Homo sapiens: one gene and its partners. The protein of the gene in region 4 interacts with the protein of the main gene of each other region in a biochemical or structural test. Each region holds a gene or a part of one and is shown on either strand. Other genes may lie near its edges.

Region 1 (4,263 bases), on a different chromosome or scaffold from region 4:
TTCTGCTGTGCAGCCCAGTTCCTAACAGGCCACAAACGGGGAGTTGGGGACCCCTGATCTAGTAAACATCTAGGCAGGGTTTTGGATAATGGAGTTAGAGTTCCTGGGGAGAGGTCAGGCTGGCCATGAAACATGGGATGCCTTTGCATATAGGTGGTGTTGAAAGCCACAGGACAGTACGGGGTCTCAGGGGGTGAGCATAAAGAGAGGCGACATCAGATGGCCAAGGCCAGAGGCAGAGGAGGATGGGAAGGAGGGGCCAGTGGGGCAGGGGGAAGCTGTGAAGCCAGGGAAAAAGGGTGTTTCGCGGAAAAGGATCAACCTGGACCAGTGCTGCCCCTAGGCAGGGCAGGATGAAACTTAACCACCACGGATTCCATGGCCCCATGGCCTCCAGGCCACAGGGGACCTTGAGAAGAGAGATCTCAGGGGACGGGTGCGGACAAGAGCCCGCCTGGCATGGCTTCAAGAGATAACTGAAGGAAAGCAAGTGGAGACGCGATAAACAGACAACTCCCTGGAGGAATTTTACTCTCGAGAGGAGAATTAAAGGGTAGTAGCTGGAGAGGGATGTGGGGTCAAGAGAAGGTCTTTAACGACGAGAACTCTCACGGCGGTTTGTGCAGAACAGGGTGGGTGTGATGACTGTGGATGGAGAGGGGAGAACTGCAGCGACTCTGTCCTAGGAGGAGGTGATGGGCCGGGACCACCAAGCGAGTGGAGGGTGGACGCCCCTTCCCTCACCCCGACACCCGCATGTGCTCAGTGTCCGTGCCGCCGGCCCTAGTGCCTGGGCTGAACGCGGGGCCGGGACTCTGAGGACGCCTCCCAGGCGGCGCAGTCCGCTCTGGCCAAGGTGGAGCGGGACGCGGCGCTTCCGACGGTGCGCGGGTCGGCTCGGGGTTGCAGGGACATCCGGCGTCCGCTCCTGCCCTGTTTTCCTGCCTTCGGCAGAGCGTTGCGCAACTCTAGCTTTAAACGCCCCTGTCCCCCTCAACTTGTCTCCCCCAGCCCCTCTGATTTACAGATTCTGCAGTCCCCGAGGGTTGCGCCTACGATACCGACACTCGCGGCAGCCCTGCGAGGCGAGTATGATCGTCCCATTTTTCGGAGTAGCAAACTAAGGTTCAGAGACTACTATGTCCCAGGTCGGTCTGGTTTGAAGGTCCGCTTTCCTCTCCCTCCGCCAGCGGGCGGTGCGAGGGACTGGGCGAGGCAGCGCTTCCCTAAGGAGGCGACCCGCAGCCCCGGCCCCCTCCCGACTCCGCCCCGTTGCAGGGCCCGGGTCGGCGAGGCCTCTCAGCTCTAAGCCCGACGGGACTTGGTGATTGGGCAGGACGGAAGAGCTGGGTGGGGCTTTCCACCAGCGGAGAAAGTCTAGTGGGCGTGGTCGCGACGAGGGCGTGGCCTGGTGCCCCGCCCCCGTCCGCGCGCTCAAAGTGGAGGGTGGCTGTGGGGGCGGGGTCAGAACACTGGCGGCCGATCCCAACGAGGCTCCCTGGAGCCCGACGCAGAGCAGCGCCCTGGCCGGGCCAAGCAGGTATCGACGACCGCGCGGGGCGTCTTGGGCTGCACCAGGCGGGCGCCCGGGGCCTGCTGAGGACCACAAAGGGCACTGGGGGTCGTGGTCCAGGCTGTGCTTCCTCCCGCTGGCCCTGGCCCCTGCCTCCGCCCCCGCCCCCGCCTTCCTGCCGCTAAGCCGGCTGCGGCGGGGCCGATTGGCGCCTGCGCCGCTTCCTGCGGCCGGGGCCAGTCTAATGCATGGGGCCCGGGCGGGGGACTAAGGGGAAACTGAGTCACGTCGGTGTGGGAGCAGTTCTGTGTGGGAGGCACCACCCCCCACTGGGCTCGGGGAAGGATCCCCCTCCAAGCTATGCTTGAGGGTCCCAGCCCCCATCTGTCTCCACAGGGGCCGCACCCCACTCCCGCCTTCCCCTTCTTCAGCACCCAGGGGTCCCGCCCTGGCTCCCAGCAGCCTCGACTGGTCCCGGAATGGCTAGGAGGATCCGCTGCAGCCGCCTCCCTCCCCTCCCCTCCCCTCCCCTCCCCTCCCCCCCCCCTCGCGTCCCAAGCCCCCGTGTGCTCCCTCCGCTGGCTCTCCGCACAGTGTCAGCTTACACGCCTTATATAGTCCGAGCAGGCTCCAGCCGCGGCCTGCCTGCCGGGACCTGGGGGCGGGGGAGAGGAGAGCCGGCCCCTGACTCACCCGGCCGCCCGAGGCTCCAGGCTGGCTTGGGGGGAGGCCGCGCCAGTTTAGTCCCTCGGCCCACCCCTGGTTGCAAAGAACCTCAAGCCTGGATTCAGGCACCCCTCACCGTTCCAGTCCCAAGGGGAGGGGGGCTGCTCCTGTCTTTCCAAAGTGAGGTCCGCCAGCCAGCAGCCCAGGCCAGCCTGACAAAATACCTGCCTCCTATGGCTTGGGCGTGCTCAGGGGCTGCCCGTGCCTGCCTGGCCCCTGTCCAAGGCTGGTATCCTGAGCTGGCCCGGCCTGCCTGCCTGCCCGCCCACCATGCTGGCCACTCACCTTCTCTTCTCTCCTCTCAGGAGCCGGCATCATGGATTCCTTCAAAGTAGTGCTGGAGGGGCCAGCACCTTGGGGCTTCCGGCTGCAAGGGGGCAAGGACTTCAATGTGCCCCTCTCCATTTCCCGGGTGAGCCTAGGTTTGGGGAGGGGGCTCCCCCAGCGGTCTTTCGGTGCTTAGGTCTCCAGAGGGTGATGGGGGGAGTCCTAACAGGAGCTGGTCAGGGGCCAGCAGGCCAGGAGATGTCTAGGTCCGGAGATGTAGTGGTACCTGCCTGCCACAAGGACTCCCAATGAGGTGGATACTGGGAGGGAGCACCCAGGCTTCTCCAGCCCTGCACTGTACCCGATGCTGTTCTCCCAAGCTCCTGTGGCCACCTCTGAGGGCTGGAGGGAGGCTCATTGTGCAGGATGGGAGCCTAACATTTCAGGAGGTATCTAAACTTGAGGTGGCAATGCTTGGAGCCAGGCCCCAGGCAGGACACTGTGACTATAGGATTTCACTTCAGCCTCACTGCCGCCCAGGGAATAGCAATCCTCATCCCGTTTTTCCAGATGAGAGAAGAACTCATGGAGAGGTGGCGGGGCTCGCTCATCGAGTCCATGGTGAAGCAGGGATTGGAATTGAGGCACAGCATGGCGTACATTTTTTGTGGGTAGAAGGGGTCTCTCCCCAGCCTATGTAAGGACCCACATCCACTGTTCCCATTCAGGATGTGGTGGCCTTTGACCCCAAGCAGAAGTGTAGGACAGGGCTCCATTCTAGGGGCTTAACTTCAGCTTCCAAGAGCCTGCCCTGGTGTGGGTGGAGCTGGAGGCTGGCTCCTCCCTGTAGCAGGGGGATTGCCTTATAAGCCCAAGAATGCAGCCCCACGCTGGGATGGCCAACAGTGGCTGCGGTCTGCAGAGCTGAAAAGGGCTGGCCTAGGCCTGGCCCCCTGAACCCCACTGGTGGGCCTCTCAGCTGGTCACCAGGCTGCAGCTCCAGCTATATGGTCCAGTTGTGAGACACAACAAATTGCCTGCCCAGAGTGGGTGAGGCCAGCCTGTCGGCTGGCATCTCTGACTGGCCTGGGGGTCAGGAGGGGGTGGGGACTTCCTGCCCCTATATCCGCCTGCCCCAAGAGACCCACCCAGGCGCCGGGTGGGCAGGCAGCTGTTGTCAGGAAGCCCAAGGCAAGCCCAGCCTGGAGGGGCCCAGAGGGTCGTGGCCTGAGGAGGGGCTCAAGCTGGAGTCTGTCTGTAGGAGCTGGGCGTGGGGGTTAGGGTGGGCAGGCCAGCAGTGCTCTTCTCAGGGGTCCTTTGATGGCATTCTCCTGGAACCTGCCCCGCCAGCAGGGTAGTGAGGCAGTGGTTGCCCTATGACACACGTCCCACTACATAGCCCTCACACAGCCCTGAAACCTACCTGACGTCCTGCTCCCTGGGAAAGTGCTGGCCCAGTGTGTCTGGGGAGCCTGAACCTCAGTTTCTTCCCTGATGGAGATGACTTTCAGATATGGCCTGTTGGGGGCACTCCGGGCTCCAGCTCCCTGGTCAGCATCCCTGGCATGTGGGCGGGGCCACTAGCTGATCCCAGCCCTGGAGTTGGACCTGGGCCCACATGGGTGGGTGAGGTGGGCTTTTCTGAGTTAGGCCAGCCCCCTCCCCCTCCCCTGACCCCAGAATGGAGGGAGGTGGGAGGGGCAAGGGCTGGCTGTGGGCCCAGGCCTGGGAGATGAGGTAACGTCTGGGACTGGGGG
Region 2 (3,500 bases), on a different chromosome or scaffold from region 4:
GGGGAGCTGACGCAACCTGTCTGCTTGGCTCTAACCCACTTGATCTTTTTGGGCAAGATGTATCAAATCAGTTCACAGCCCTGCCCCCAAACCCTCCCCAGTGTCCGCATTGACTACTGAGCTCATTGGCTTGACTCCCAAGGCCTTTCATGAGCTTCTCTAGCTTCCTTTTCAGCCTTATCTCTCACTCCTCGCCACGCTCCTCACACTGCCTAGCTTTAGCCTCAAAAAATGCCAGGCTTTCTTGCCTTGAGGCCTTTGCACGTGCTCTTCCTTCTTCCGCTTTGCCTCCTAGGTCTTAAGTTGGGCGTCACTGCCTTCTGGAAGCCTCCCTTGAGCTTTTCCTCTACTCCAGCCCTCTTCCTTATTATAGCACCTGTGCTTCCTCCGTCTCCACGCTGATGGTGTGGCGGGTGCCTACTTTTCTTTGTTCCCCACCAGACTGTCTTGAGAAGGGAGACTGCAGCTGTCTATCCAGCAGGGATTCCCAGTGCCCTGCATAGTGCCTTGGCATATAGTAGGTGCTCAATAAGCATGTGTTGAATGAATAAATGAATGACTAAATAGTATGGTGAGAACATGGGACAGTGCCTGTGGATAGATCTGGCCCTGAAAACCCCCCTATGGCCGGTGCTGGTGTGGCAGGCACAAGTGTCAAGCCAACACAGGTGTTTGTTTCCATGACTTGGGGCCTGCTGGTGGCTGGGCTGACTGTGTGGGCGTGTGGTCACTCACACTTCCTGCTGCAGCACTGATGACAGCTTGCCAGGGGCATGCAGGGAGGAGGAGGGTGGGTGGTACAAGGGTGAGAGGTGGGCCAAATGAAGCCAACCAAGCAACAGCCCCCTGGCTTTTGAGGCTGGGACAACCCTGGCTTTGATGTCGCTTGTGACATTTATAGTCCAGTTCTTCAGAGGCTCCTTGTGTTGGGGGGCTTTTAACCTTCCCTGGGCTCTGATCAGGAACTAACAGTGGGAACTTGGTGATGCCTTGAAGAATCTGAGAAGTCTGGACTCTGTCTTGAATCTTGATCCTGACTCAAAGTTTTGCTGACACTGAGATTGCTAAGATCCCAGGTTTGCAGCTTCACCCAAATTTTCTTTTACTCTGGACTATCAATAACCATAGTTAATGTCTACTGAACATCCACGATGTGCCTGCCACTCTTGCCATTCTTAACTTAGAATGTGTCCATGTATTAACTTATTTGATTCGAATAGGTAGCTGCCATTAGCATTCCTATTTTTGGACAGGGATGCCCAGGCTCAGATAGATGAAGTAGCATGTGTTCAGTTACCTAGCTAGTAAGTGGCACAGCCAGGATTCAAACCCAGGCAGGCCAACTCCCTGCTACTCCAACTTGCCATCTTTATGTTCCCTGCACTTGCAATGCCCTTGCTCCCATCCTCCATGTGTTGCCATCCCTCAAGGCTCAGCTCGTAAGCCCTCTACTCTACAGAGGTGTCTTCAATCTTCAGTTAGAATGAATCCCTCCCATAGCGCATGGCTTATGCATATTTTATAGCAGAAGCCTGCCTGGGCAGCAGCTCATCCTTCAGATGGCAAAGTCCTGGAAAGCACAGGCATGTCAATCTCCTCTGCATCCTCTTCAGCACTGCTCCCCTCTCCCCTTCACAGAGAGAGGCCCCAGGCAGGTACTCAATCAAAGTGGAATCAAATTTGTTGAGGAAAAGCTACTGCTCATCTTGATGGAGGCCACTTACAGAGAAAAATGTTGTGCAAGGCTAACTCAGCTCTAGAAACCAGCTCCTGGCTGGGCTCTGGGGAAAGATGTCCCGAGAACAGGCAGATTTCTTCCTGTCAAAGCTGCAGGGCTCACGACCCCAACCAGAGGTCCAGAAAGGGTCCCTCTGAGAGTCTCCCGCTGGAAGCTTCAGCCTTGCTGGCATCTGGCACTTTCTTCACTCCCACCTTCCTTGTAAGCTCTCCTGAGTGCTCTGAGATGCTTGTCCTGCTCTCCACGCAGGAACTCAAATCCATGCAGGGAAGGTTAATAAAAACCACTGGTCAGGTGCTATTGACTATGCCCTCCCTCAGCAACCCCTGCTACCCTCAGCTGACATGAGATGCCTTTGCACTGACTCAAGCCTGGCCTCATGGCTACGGGAGTGGAATAATATTTTGTTTTTCCCTTCATGGGATCCAAGCTCCCTGTCTTCCTCAGAGATTGCATGTTTCAAAATAGTCTTTGGATTACGAATAATTAATAAGAAATATGTCTTTTTCAGAAAGACACTGTTCATCTTCCTAACATCCAAGAAAAACATTCCTATTCTTTTAATAGTAAATTATTTCTAGGAACTCTCTCATCTTCATTTTTTCTATAGCTGGAAATTGGCCAGAAATTTCTGGGTATTACACTTCAAGCCAGTGCAGTTGGCCAGTACTGTAGAAAATGGCACTGGAATGTCCTAATACTGCATTTGATGGTACAGTGTTATCACTTCATTTACAGAGCCAAATACGCCCCTGCTTCCTCCTCCCCTCCCTTTTTTTCCCGTTAAATCAGGAGCCATTTCCCATATTCAAGGCTTTCTGGGATAATATCAGGAAGTGACTGGATGTGACAGAGTGCTGGCTATTCATTAACATAGACTTCCAAGTCCTACATTGAAAGTTACCAGCCTACACTAGCAAAGAAGAGCTAAGAGAGAGCAATGAATATCAAATGGACACACCGTTGCTTACCCCAAAGGTCCCAGGCCATTCACCATACAATACAGCACTTCAAAATCAGTGAGAACCACCATATACATGCAGGATGTCCACACATGCACACGGAGGGGGCATTCCTGGAAAATGGGGTGAGATGATGTTTCTTTCTGTCTCCACTCTCAGGAGCAGTGGAGGACATGGGAAACAGCAGTTCTCCCCACTCTTCCTACTTCCAAACATAGCATGCAGAACAGGGACATTACCTTTGGGGTGGGTGGGAAGCTCTGTTCAGGGACAGGGGAGTTAGTGGGCTTCCCACTGTGGTTCTTTGCCTCCCAGTCCTCCACTGGATTGCCTGTGTCCCCAGTGCGGAAGGGATGGTTGCTCAGTGCTTCTTCCAGCGCCGAGGGCAGTGGGCGGGTGGGAGTGAGGTCTTGGGTGGGAACGGATGGCGGGGGAGGGATGGGAATGGGGGGTGGAGTGCGCTGCACCCATGGAGAGGATGAGGCGCTCACATGGCCAGATAAGGGAAGGACAGGGGGCGCCGGGACCTTGTGGGGTGGGTTGGAGGGTGGAGGGTGGGGCATCACAGGCAAGGCAGAGGGAGTCTTGGGGGGATAGTAGAACATGTCCAAAGGGATGTCGTCCAGGTCAGTGGTGTGCAGGTGCAGTCCGCCTGCGAAGCGTCTCAAGGGTGGGGCCAGGGGAGACACAGAAGGCGGGGGAGGCGGGGGCCCTGTGGTCATCTGGGGGTGTTGCAAGGAAGTTCTGTAATTGTCACTCTGCTTAGAGCTCCACTTCACAATACAGCGAGCACTATGCTC
Region 3 (3,500 bases), on a different chromosome or scaffold from region 4:
CATCACTTGAGCTCAGGAGCTCAAGATTAGCCTGGGCAACATAGCAAGAGCCTGTCTCTACCAAAAAAAAAAAAAGTTTTAATTTAGCCAGGTGTGATGCACACCTGTAGTCCCGGCTACTTAGGAGGCTGAGGTGGGAAGATGGCTTGAGTGCAGGAGATCAAGGCTGCAGTGAGCTATGATCAAGCTACTGCCTCCAGAAAAAAAAAAAGGAAAGAAAAAAAGAAAAAAGAAAGAAACTCACGTGGTTGCCAGACATGCCAACACCACCACCAGGATCATGAGCACACGACCACATCCCACCTGGCTGGTGGGCTCCCAGTGTACTCTTTCTTGCACACACACAGGCCTGCAGTGCCATGTGTGGCTGCCACCTGTCTGTTCAGCGTGCCCTCCGAATGCCCACAAACCCCTGCACTCAGCATGCAGGTCATGTGGATGGAAGGTGTGCCGAAGCCTGTGTTCTACCCTGTTCTAGGCATCCTGCACCTGCTATGAAAGCCGCTGCAGGTGCAGTGGTTCACTCTTGTAATCCCAGCACTTTGGTAGGCTGAGGTGGGTGGATCACTTGAGGTCAGGAGTTCCAAGTCCAGCTTGGGCAACACAACAAGACCCCCATATATTCAAAATATTTAAAAATCAGCCAGGGGTGGCCGTGCGCGGTGACTCACGTCTGTAATCCCAGCACTTTGTGGAGCTGAGGCAGGCCAATCACGTGAGGTCAGGAGTTCGAGACAAGCCTGGCCAACATGGGGAAACCTCATCTGTACTAAAAATACAAAAATAAGCCAGGTGTGGTGGTACGCAGTTGTAATTCCAACTACTCGGGAGGCTGAGGCAGGAGAATTGCTTGAACCTGGGAGACGGAGGTTGCAGTGAGCTGAGATCGCACCACTACACTCCAACCTGGGCAACACGGTGAGACTCCATCTCAAAGAAAAAAAAAATAAAAAATTAGCCAGGCGTGGTGGTATGCACCTGTAGTCCCAGCTACTTGGGAGGATGAGGTGGGAGGAGCACTTGAGCTCAGGAGTTGGAGACCAGCCTGGGCAACATAGCAAAAAAATTTGAAATTAGCTGGGTGTGGTGGCACACACCTGTAATCCCAGCTGCAGGGGAGGCTCAGGCAGGAGGATCTGTTGAGCCTGGGATTCAAGGCTGCACTGAGCCTTGATTGCACTCCAGCCTGGGGGACAGAGTGAGACCTGTCACAAAAAAAAAAAAAAAAAAGAAGAAAAGAAAAAAAGGCAGGTGTGGTGGCTCACATCTGTAATCCCAGCACTTTCAGAGGCTGAGGCAGGTGGATCACCTGAGGTTAGGAGTTGAAGACCAGCCTGTCCAATATGGTGAAACCCCATCTCTGCTTAAAAAAAAAAAATACAAAAATTTAGCCAGGCATGGTGGTGCATGCCTGTGGTCCCAGCTACTTGGGAAGCTGAGGCTCGAGAATCATTTGAACCTGGGAGGTGGAGGTTGCAGTGAGCTGAGATTGTGCCACTGCACTCCAACCTGGATGAGAAAGCCAGACTCTGAATAAATAAAGAGAGAAAGAGAGAAAGAGACAGAGAGAGAGAAAAGAGAGAAAGAGAGAAAGTGAGAGAAGGAAGAGAAGGAAGGAAAGGAAAGGAAGGAAAGGGAAGGGGCCGCTGCAGAGTTGCTGGTCCTTGTGTGCCCATGAGCTGCAGTCCCAGGGACCCACAATTTGCTAGGGTTTTAGCGAGAAGCTCAGGATCCATGCTGGACCACACATGCCTTACATATCTGCGTAGGCTCAAAAAACTTCTATTTTGGCCGGGAGCAGTGGCTCACACCTGTAATCCCAGCACTTTGGGAGGCCGAGGCAGGCGGATCACCTGAGGTCAGGAACTTGAGACCAGCCTAGCCCACATGTTGAAACCATATCTCTACTAAAAATACAAAAATTAGCCAGGCATGGTGACGGACACCTGTAATCCCAGCTACTTGGGAGGCTGAGGCAGGAGAATCGCTTGAACCTGGGAGGTGGAGGTTGCAGTGAGCTGAGATTGCACCACTGCACTCCCACCTGGGCAACAAGAGCAAAACTCAGTCTCAAAAAAAAAACACTTCTATTTTGCCCATAATCCTCTCTGGGCAGCAGTGACTTGGCCTGGGGCAAGCACAGGGCGTTGAGACTCTGGAAGCTGTTGTCATGAGATCTCTGCTAGGCCCCTGAGTTCAGGCTAGCTGCATTCTGGTGCTGCATTCTGGTGCTGCTCCTGGCACCTGGTTTCTTGCCCTGGGGCTTCCCCTCAAGAGCTGTTCTGGAGGCAAGCAGGGCAGGCCCCGTAGCTTGGGGTCTGCATATTGGTGCAGATGACATCTGCCCTCCCCTCCCTGTTTTGGAGGTCCCTTGTCTGGCTGAGAGGGCAAGAGGGCCCCATGTTCCCTGCATGTCCCACAGCAGAGCCGGAGCCTGAGCTGGACCTGGAGTCCGAGCCCACGCCTGAGCCCCAGCCGCGGAGCTCCCTGCGGGCTTCCTCCATGTGCCGCCGCAGCCTCCGGTCCCAGGGCCTGGAGGCCGGCCTCAGCTGCGGTAAGGCTGGTGTCAGGGGGAGGGTATGAATGGAGCTCAGTTTTCCCACCTGCAAAATGGGCTTGGTGAGGTGGGGAATCCCAGGGAATGGGGCTAAGCAGGGCTCAGGATTGGCCCTCCTGGGTCTGCGGGGCATGTTGGTTCTGGGCCGGGGCCTGAGCCGTAGAGCTCAGATACGGTAATGACATTATTCCCCGGTAGGTCCCAGCGAGTGCCCTGAGATGCCTCTTCCCCTGATCCCAGGCGAGCGCCAGGCAGGCGACGGCACGTCCCTCCCTGAGACCCCCAACCCCAAGATGGTGAGACCTTCTCTGCCCTCCACGTGGGGTCAGTAGGGGGCAGGGAATGGACGGTCCATAGGACTGGGCCCAGGAGACCCAGGCCAAGGCGTCCCTGTGCTGCTTCAGGCTGGGGCATATCCCTGCCTCCCGGCCCACCCAGGCCTGGACCACATTAGGGCTACGAGGGGAAGCAGAATGGGCTGGACTCTCCCCCGTCTCCCTCCAGATGTCAGCCGTCTATGCAGAGCTTGAGTCTCGACTGAACAGCAGCTTCAAAGGGAAGATGGGGACCGTGTCCAAATCCCGGGCTTCCCCTCCAGGCCCCAGCCCAGCAGTCACCACAGGTAGGGCTCCAGCCTCTGTCATCTACTGTCTGGGTGTTTCCCTCCACCCCAGGCTCAGCCCTGGAGCTGCTTCTCTGCTCCATCAGGGTCAGGGTTGTCCCAGTCCCTCCCATGGCCCTGTGACCCTCACCTCAGCTGTGGATCAAGAAAGTAGCCTGGGTACCGTGGGTCGTGCCTGTAATCCCAGCACTTTGGGAGGCCGAGGCAGGAGGATCAATGGAGCCCAGGAGTTTGAGACCAGCCTGGCAACATAGTGAGGCCCCATCTCTAACAAAAAAAATACAAAATTAGCTGGGCATGGTTGCATATGCCTGTAGTCCC
Region 4 (5,567 bases):
GTGATCTCCAGTCCTGGACTTGCTGGTTGGTCAGATCTGGCACTTTAATGCACCAGATCCAATAATGAGATCTGGCACCTGTATATTTCAGTCCTGAACTCTTAGGGTTAAAGGCGGCTTGGCTACTTGAGTGTGGGATAGGGGAAAGGAGAACAAGCCCAAGGAGGGTGAAGAGAGTGGGCTCCTAAGGTGAATTTACTGGAAGGAGGACTGCCACGTGAGGGAATTGATAGGGCTCACTTCTCCTGGTCTTCCCATCCCCAGAGTTTAAGGACGGTCCCTGCACTAGCTTAGTAGCTGCCAAGCAGTGTTAACACATCTCTGGAAAGGTGGGCTTAGGCTGTGAGGCTGCAGCGAGGATCTGGGAAATGCAGACCTCACCAGAGATTCTGGTCTTTGGAGGGATTTAGGTGAAACTGTGCTCTTATGGTATTATTTATTGCTGAGACATAGTATAGGCAACAGAAAGATGTTGCAGATTCTAGAAAATTCTGGCTAGGTCAGTGTCCGTTGGCAAAAGAAGAGGGAATAGTGGGGGATATGGTCTGGGAGTAGATGGCTAGAGAAGGGGCTGCAGAAAGAAGGCTGCTACCCACAACTGCAGCATTATGTGTATGGGAGATAAATTCACTTGTCATATTTCAAATCAGGTTTACAGGTATTTCTCCCCCGTCCGCTCCCCCCACCCAGCTGTGGCTTAACAGGTAGTCTTCTCAAATTTTAATTACAATTGGTAATATATTGGCGTCTAAAGTCTAGGTCTGACTAAGATGATGGTTTGTGTGTATGTGTACGTGACTATAACAGAAAGAGCTTCTAAAGTCTTCCGATGTGGTGGGAAAGGTGCTGCGCTAGGCATCAGTCGTTCTCTTCCCAAGAGAATCTCCCATCTCTAATGTCAGACTGCTTCAGGAGGTGAAAAGGGTGTGGGTGTTGCAGTGAATTTCCCCAGCCCAAGACACACACACACACACACACAGACACACACACACACGCGCGCGCGCGCGCGCGTTAACAAGTTTGGGGGGGGCGGAAAAACAAACTCCTGCTGATGGCTGGGAAATCCAGCTAAAAGCACAAGGCAGGCTCCTATAGCATAGGCGAGCCAGACAGACGCCCAGATAGCCTCAGCTCCCGAGCGCGAAGCCCAGCTGCTGCCGGGGCACTCTCGACTTGCTCTCGGGGAGGCTGCAGGCTGCGGAAAGCCGGGGCGCCAGCCTCCCTCATCACACTCCTTTCCCGAATCACCTCAAACTCTGTACCCAACGGCAAAGCTCAGAAATGCAAAAAACCGAAGAGGGTCAAATTGTACTTCAATCCAAAGGAGGCTGAACACCCGCCCCCCCCGCACCCCCCCCCCCCACCACACACACACCATGCCGCTTAATTTCTTTTCCCGGCTTAGATAAAAAGCATTACTTGCCCATCGAGGCTTGGAGATGGGGGGCAAGAGGTTGGTCCGAGGCTAAGCTCACCTGCTGCTGAGGTGAGAGAGCAGACACAGGATGGAAGCTATTCTGACCAGCAGCTAAGTGGTTGGGGGATTGCAAAGACCCTCAACTTCGCCTCTGGCTTTTTTTTTTCATTCGTGTCACTAAAGGGTTAAACACGGCAAGGCTCCAGCCCGCCCCCCAACCTCCACGCCGCTCCACTCCCCCTCCCCTTTTTGTCTCTCCCCTCCCCTCCCGCGCGTCGCTAGGAGGTCATCAAGCGCTCTGCCCAGTCCGCGTTCGCAAGCCCCTCTGCTTCCCGCCCATCGGACCCGTGGCTGCTTACGAAGAGGTGTGCGCACACTGAGGGGCGTGTTCCAGCATAGGGAGACGCTGAGCGCCCACGGGTTAGACCTCAGAGCCAAGCCAGCCATGGAGTGGGATGGGGGAAAGTTTGGCACCCTGCGAGGGGCTGCCGGACTGGAGTGGGCGGGGCGCCCGAGGGTACTTTAGCCTTCCAGGCTTAGGGACTCAGGCTGCCCAGACCTGAAGCGGTGTGCGGCCATGGACCGCGGAGCTGCCGCAGCCCAGGGCACTGCCCCGCCTCAGGATGGAGAGCAGCCCGCTGAGTCTCCAGAGCCTCCGCCGCCTTGGCCGCCGCCGCCACCACCACCGGCTCCGCCGCCGGCTCCGCCGCTGCTCTCCGAGGCTTCGCCAGAACCCATACCAGAGCCCTGTCCAGAGCTTGCTCCAGGTCCCTGTCCAGAGGCGACCTCAGAATCAGCCACAGAACTGTACACAGAACCGACCCCAGAACCAGCCACAGAGCCGGCCTCAGAACCGGCCCCAGAACCTGCCACAGAGCCGGCCCCAGAACCTGCCACAGAGCCGGCCCCAGAACCGGCCCCAGAACCTGCCACAGAGTCTGCCCCAGAGCCGACTCCAGAACCTGCCCTAGAGTCGGTCCCAGAGCCGGCCCCAGAGCTGACTCCAGAAGTTGCCCCAGAGCTGGCCCCAGAGCCGACCCCAGAACCTGTGACAGAGCTGGCCCCAGAGTTCTGCCCTGAGGCGGCTCCAGAGTTCCGTCCAAGTCCAGCACCATGTCTATTGCAATGTCCGGTGGACACTCGAGAGAGAGGTCTAAAGACCTCGCCATCGCCATCGCCATCGCCATCGCCCAGAACGCCAATGTCGTGGTCCAGAATAAAGGTAAGCAAAAGACCCCCTGAAGCGGGGAAAAGAAGCAAGGCGAAGTCAGATGGCTATGGAGCCCGCGGGACTCCGGGTACCCCTTGCATCCCGCTTGTCTGGCACTGGCTGGCCAAGATGCTGAGAAAGATGCAGGGATGGGGAACCCGGGGGAATGGGAAGGGGTTGGGAGGCGGGAAGCAACATGTGGGAATCGAGAATGGGCTGTTTGGGGCTAGAAACGGGGGTGACAGCAGGGGGTGGGAATCGGAGCAGTTTTCCCCTTGAAGAGAAGCGACAGTGCGGTGAGCGCCAATATCTTGAAAGAGAGGAGGAAGATACCCTCGGGGAGCGCAAGAGACCTGGAGAAGTGTTTGGGGCTGGCCCCGAATACATAGCGGACGGATTGAGTGGGGGCGGTGGGACACACCTCTTAGCCGCGGTCACTGCCGCAGAGGCCCAAGCTGCGGAGCCTTCGCCTGCTTGGCCCCCTCCCTGCCACTGGGGAGGGGGCGCCTCAGCTGGGCGCAACTGGCGGCCCTCCAGGGAGGTGCCCGGCGCCTCTGCCGGCTGCTTCGAGCTGGTACTCCTGGTGAGGACGAGGGGATGGGCGGCGCCCACGCGCACTGCAGGGGAAGGGCAGGGTTCTCCGGGAGGAGGGGGAGAGCATGCGTGTGTCGAAGCCACCATTCCATCTGTCTGCAGGATTTCCCAGCAGGTAGGTGCAAACGCAGTGATACAATGTTGCGCAGCGTCACAAACGGGGCAACTGGCATCCCGCACCAGGGCCAATTGGAATGGTACAGGAGTCCTGGTTTAGAGACACGAAAATAGGAGTTGGGATTGCAGAACGTGTGAAGGGGAACCTTCATCTCTACCAGTCTACCGCGACGCCTTCTAAATCGTTACACTTAGCCGGGAAAAGATGAGTGGAGAATCTTCTGGCACTCGCCCAAGGGGAGTAGGGAGGAAAAAGGTTTTCGTGTTTACCTTGGACCCTGAAACCCCGTCTGCTCTTAAGCGGGAGTATGCCTGTCTTTCCTGCTTTCTCTGCACTCTCCCTACTCTTCCTTTACCCTAAACTTCGTTCCACAAAACTGAAAACCAGGATAATGCACACACACACCTCAATTTAGCTTCCCCTGCAGGAAGACATACACACGCGCGCGCATTCACACACACACACACACACACACAAACGAATAACACAACACACGAACAATACCGGTCCATCCTGCTGCCTAGCAGACCATAAGGACACGGCTCAGGAACCCTTCTGCTGTGGACCGCACACTTATAGAATGTAGAATGCGGGAGGGGAGGGGGCAGATTGGCATCACGAAATGGAAGCATTGGTTGCTTCCTGAGTTCTTAGTAGGGAGGCTTGAGTTTGCAAAATATCTGCAATGACGAATAACTGAAAAAGAAGGCTAAAATGAAAAGTTTCACAGAGAAAAGAAAGTGCAGAGGTTTAAAAATAAATAAAACATGACGGTGGGAGACTCTGATAAGTTTTTAAAAATTCAACACCCTAGCTCTCACCAGGGGATGTATCCCTCCCCTTCCTGAAAATACCCTTTCCTGCAGTGATCTTAAGAAGGGCAAAGTTGGGGTGGCTAGATTTGGGAGCTCACCCTCACCGGGTGATTGATCTTGTCTTTTTGGAAGAGTTTGCATTAAGCTGGTGGGAAAGAGACAAGCAGGAATCACCTGACCTGTGGCCATCTTAAGCGAAATTTTGGGAACATGGCTGTGAAACTGACACGTGGGGACGTAATACCCAGAGAATGCATCTCCCCTTTGGCCTCTGAAAGGCTGACTGGCGACCAGGACCCTTCCCCCAGTGAAAAGCATCCCCTGCTCCCATGCGAAAGCATCTCCTACCTGTTTGACAGGAAAATGTCATTGCCAGACAGATGAGGAAGATTAAGGTAAGGGGAATCAGATTAGTTTCCTCTACGTAGTGCCCACTCAGACGTGCTGGCTAGCTGACCCACAGACATCTGGCAACACTGGCAGGAGACCAGGATCCCAGGGGTTTGACTTTGCCCTTAGTAGAGCCAGACATTTGTTGAATCACTTATCTGTAGAATGGGGTTAAGAACCACGACCATCCGTTAAGAAGGCCATGCAGATTAACTAATCAGTGGCTCTGGAGAATTTTGAAGGATGTAAAGGATCTAGGTACGTGCTCAAATTAAATTGCTTGGAGCCAAACCCTTTTACAACACCCTCAATGTTGCTATGCAATTGCTCTCTGGTGCAGCTGGGAACATCTGATCTTCAGTGATAGGATCATTCTCTCCTGCATCTTCCTCAGACAAATGGCACCTGCAACCAGCTGGCTTGTATCTTAACATTCAAGGCAAACAGGTTGTCATCTTAGCTGGGGTGATGTTGTTTTCAAACACTGCCTCCTCGAGGCAAGCTTGGGGGGAAAAAACTGTGCAACACGCACAGGCGTGCACACACCCCTAACACACACACATACTATACATATGTGCCCAAAATGTCAGGGAACAAAACAAAATACAGGTCTCATCATGCAATGAAATCCTCCATAGCAAGCATGAAACTATCCTGATAATTCAAAGGATGAAATGAGCAAAACCAAGTGTTTGAATATGACTGCAAGTTTCTCCCAGATAATTTTGTTGACTGGTATTGTAGCAAAAAACCAACATCTTTCAGCCTTGTAGTCTGCTCTTTTTTGGAATTTCAGGAAAGTTTCAGAACCTGCAATTGACTGAGAAAAGGGGGCTCATGTTTTCTTTTCAAATAGCTACCAGGATAACACAGTCAGTCTGTGAACCAAACATGTCTATTTCTTTCCTTTCTAAAATGTTTCAATTCCCAGGAAATGAGCCATGGTCTCCCACCTGGTGGCAGCAAGTGTAAGTAAGGATGTGTGAATTGGTTCTTTAGCAATGCTATAACTCTCTTGGGGGA

The links. The genes of interacting proteins can lie anywhere in the genome.
Region 1: the proteins of DGKK (region 4) and PDLIM7 interact in a test that uses a peptide from one of them, tested with the Homo sapiens proteins (one large-scale study listed by IntAct).
Region 2: the proteins of DGKK (region 4) and USH1C interact in a test that uses a peptide from one of them, tested with the Homo sapiens proteins (one large-scale study listed by IntAct).
Region 3: the proteins of DGKK (region 4) and GRID2IP interact in a test that uses a peptide from one of them, tested with the Homo sapiens proteins (one large-scale study listed by IntAct).

The regions. Positions count from the first base shown.
Region 1 is NC_000005.10:177,494,805-177,499,067, reverse strand, and holds the start of PDLIM7 (PDZ and LIM domain protein 7), read left to right. Parts: upstream 1-1,463; 5' UTR 1,464-1,540; intron 1,541-2,544; 5' UTR 2,545-2,555; coding exon 2,556-2,651; intron 2,652-4,263. UniProt on the Homo sapiens protein: May function as a scaffold on which the coordinated assembly of proteins can occur. May play a role as an adapter that, via its PDZ domain, localizes LIM-binding proteins to actin filaments of both skeletal muscle and nonmuscle tissues.
Region 2 is NC_000011.10:17,506,417-17,509,916, forward strand, and holds part of USH1C (harmonin), read right to left. Parts: intron 3,423-3,500; coding exon 2,940-3,422; intron 2,814-2,939; coding exon of another isoform or gene 2,706-2,813; exon of another isoform or gene 1-2,705. UniProt on the Homo sapiens protein: Anchoring/scaffolding protein that is a part of the functional network formed by USH1C, USH1G, CDH23 and MYO7A that mediates mechanotransduction in cochlear hair cells. Required for normal development and maintenance of cochlear hair cell bundles.
Region 3 is NC_000007.14:6,509,962-6,513,461, reverse strand, and holds part of GRID2IP (delphilin), read left to right. Parts: intron 1-2,422; coding exon 2,423-2,554; intron 2,555-2,755; coding exon 2,756-2,853; intron 2,854-3,061; coding exon 3,062-3,179; intron 3,180-3,309; exon of another isoform or gene 3,310-3,446; intron 3,447-3,500.
Region 4 is NC_000023.11:50,467,106-50,472,672, reverse strand, and holds the start of DGKK (diacylglycerol kinase kappa), read left to right. Parts: upstream 1-1,847; 5' UTR 1,848-1,994; coding exon 1,995-2,639; intron 2,640-5,567. UniProt on the Homo sapiens protein: Diacylglycerol kinase that converts diacylglycerol/DAG into phosphatidic acid/phosphatidate/PA and regulates the respective levels of these two bioactive lipids.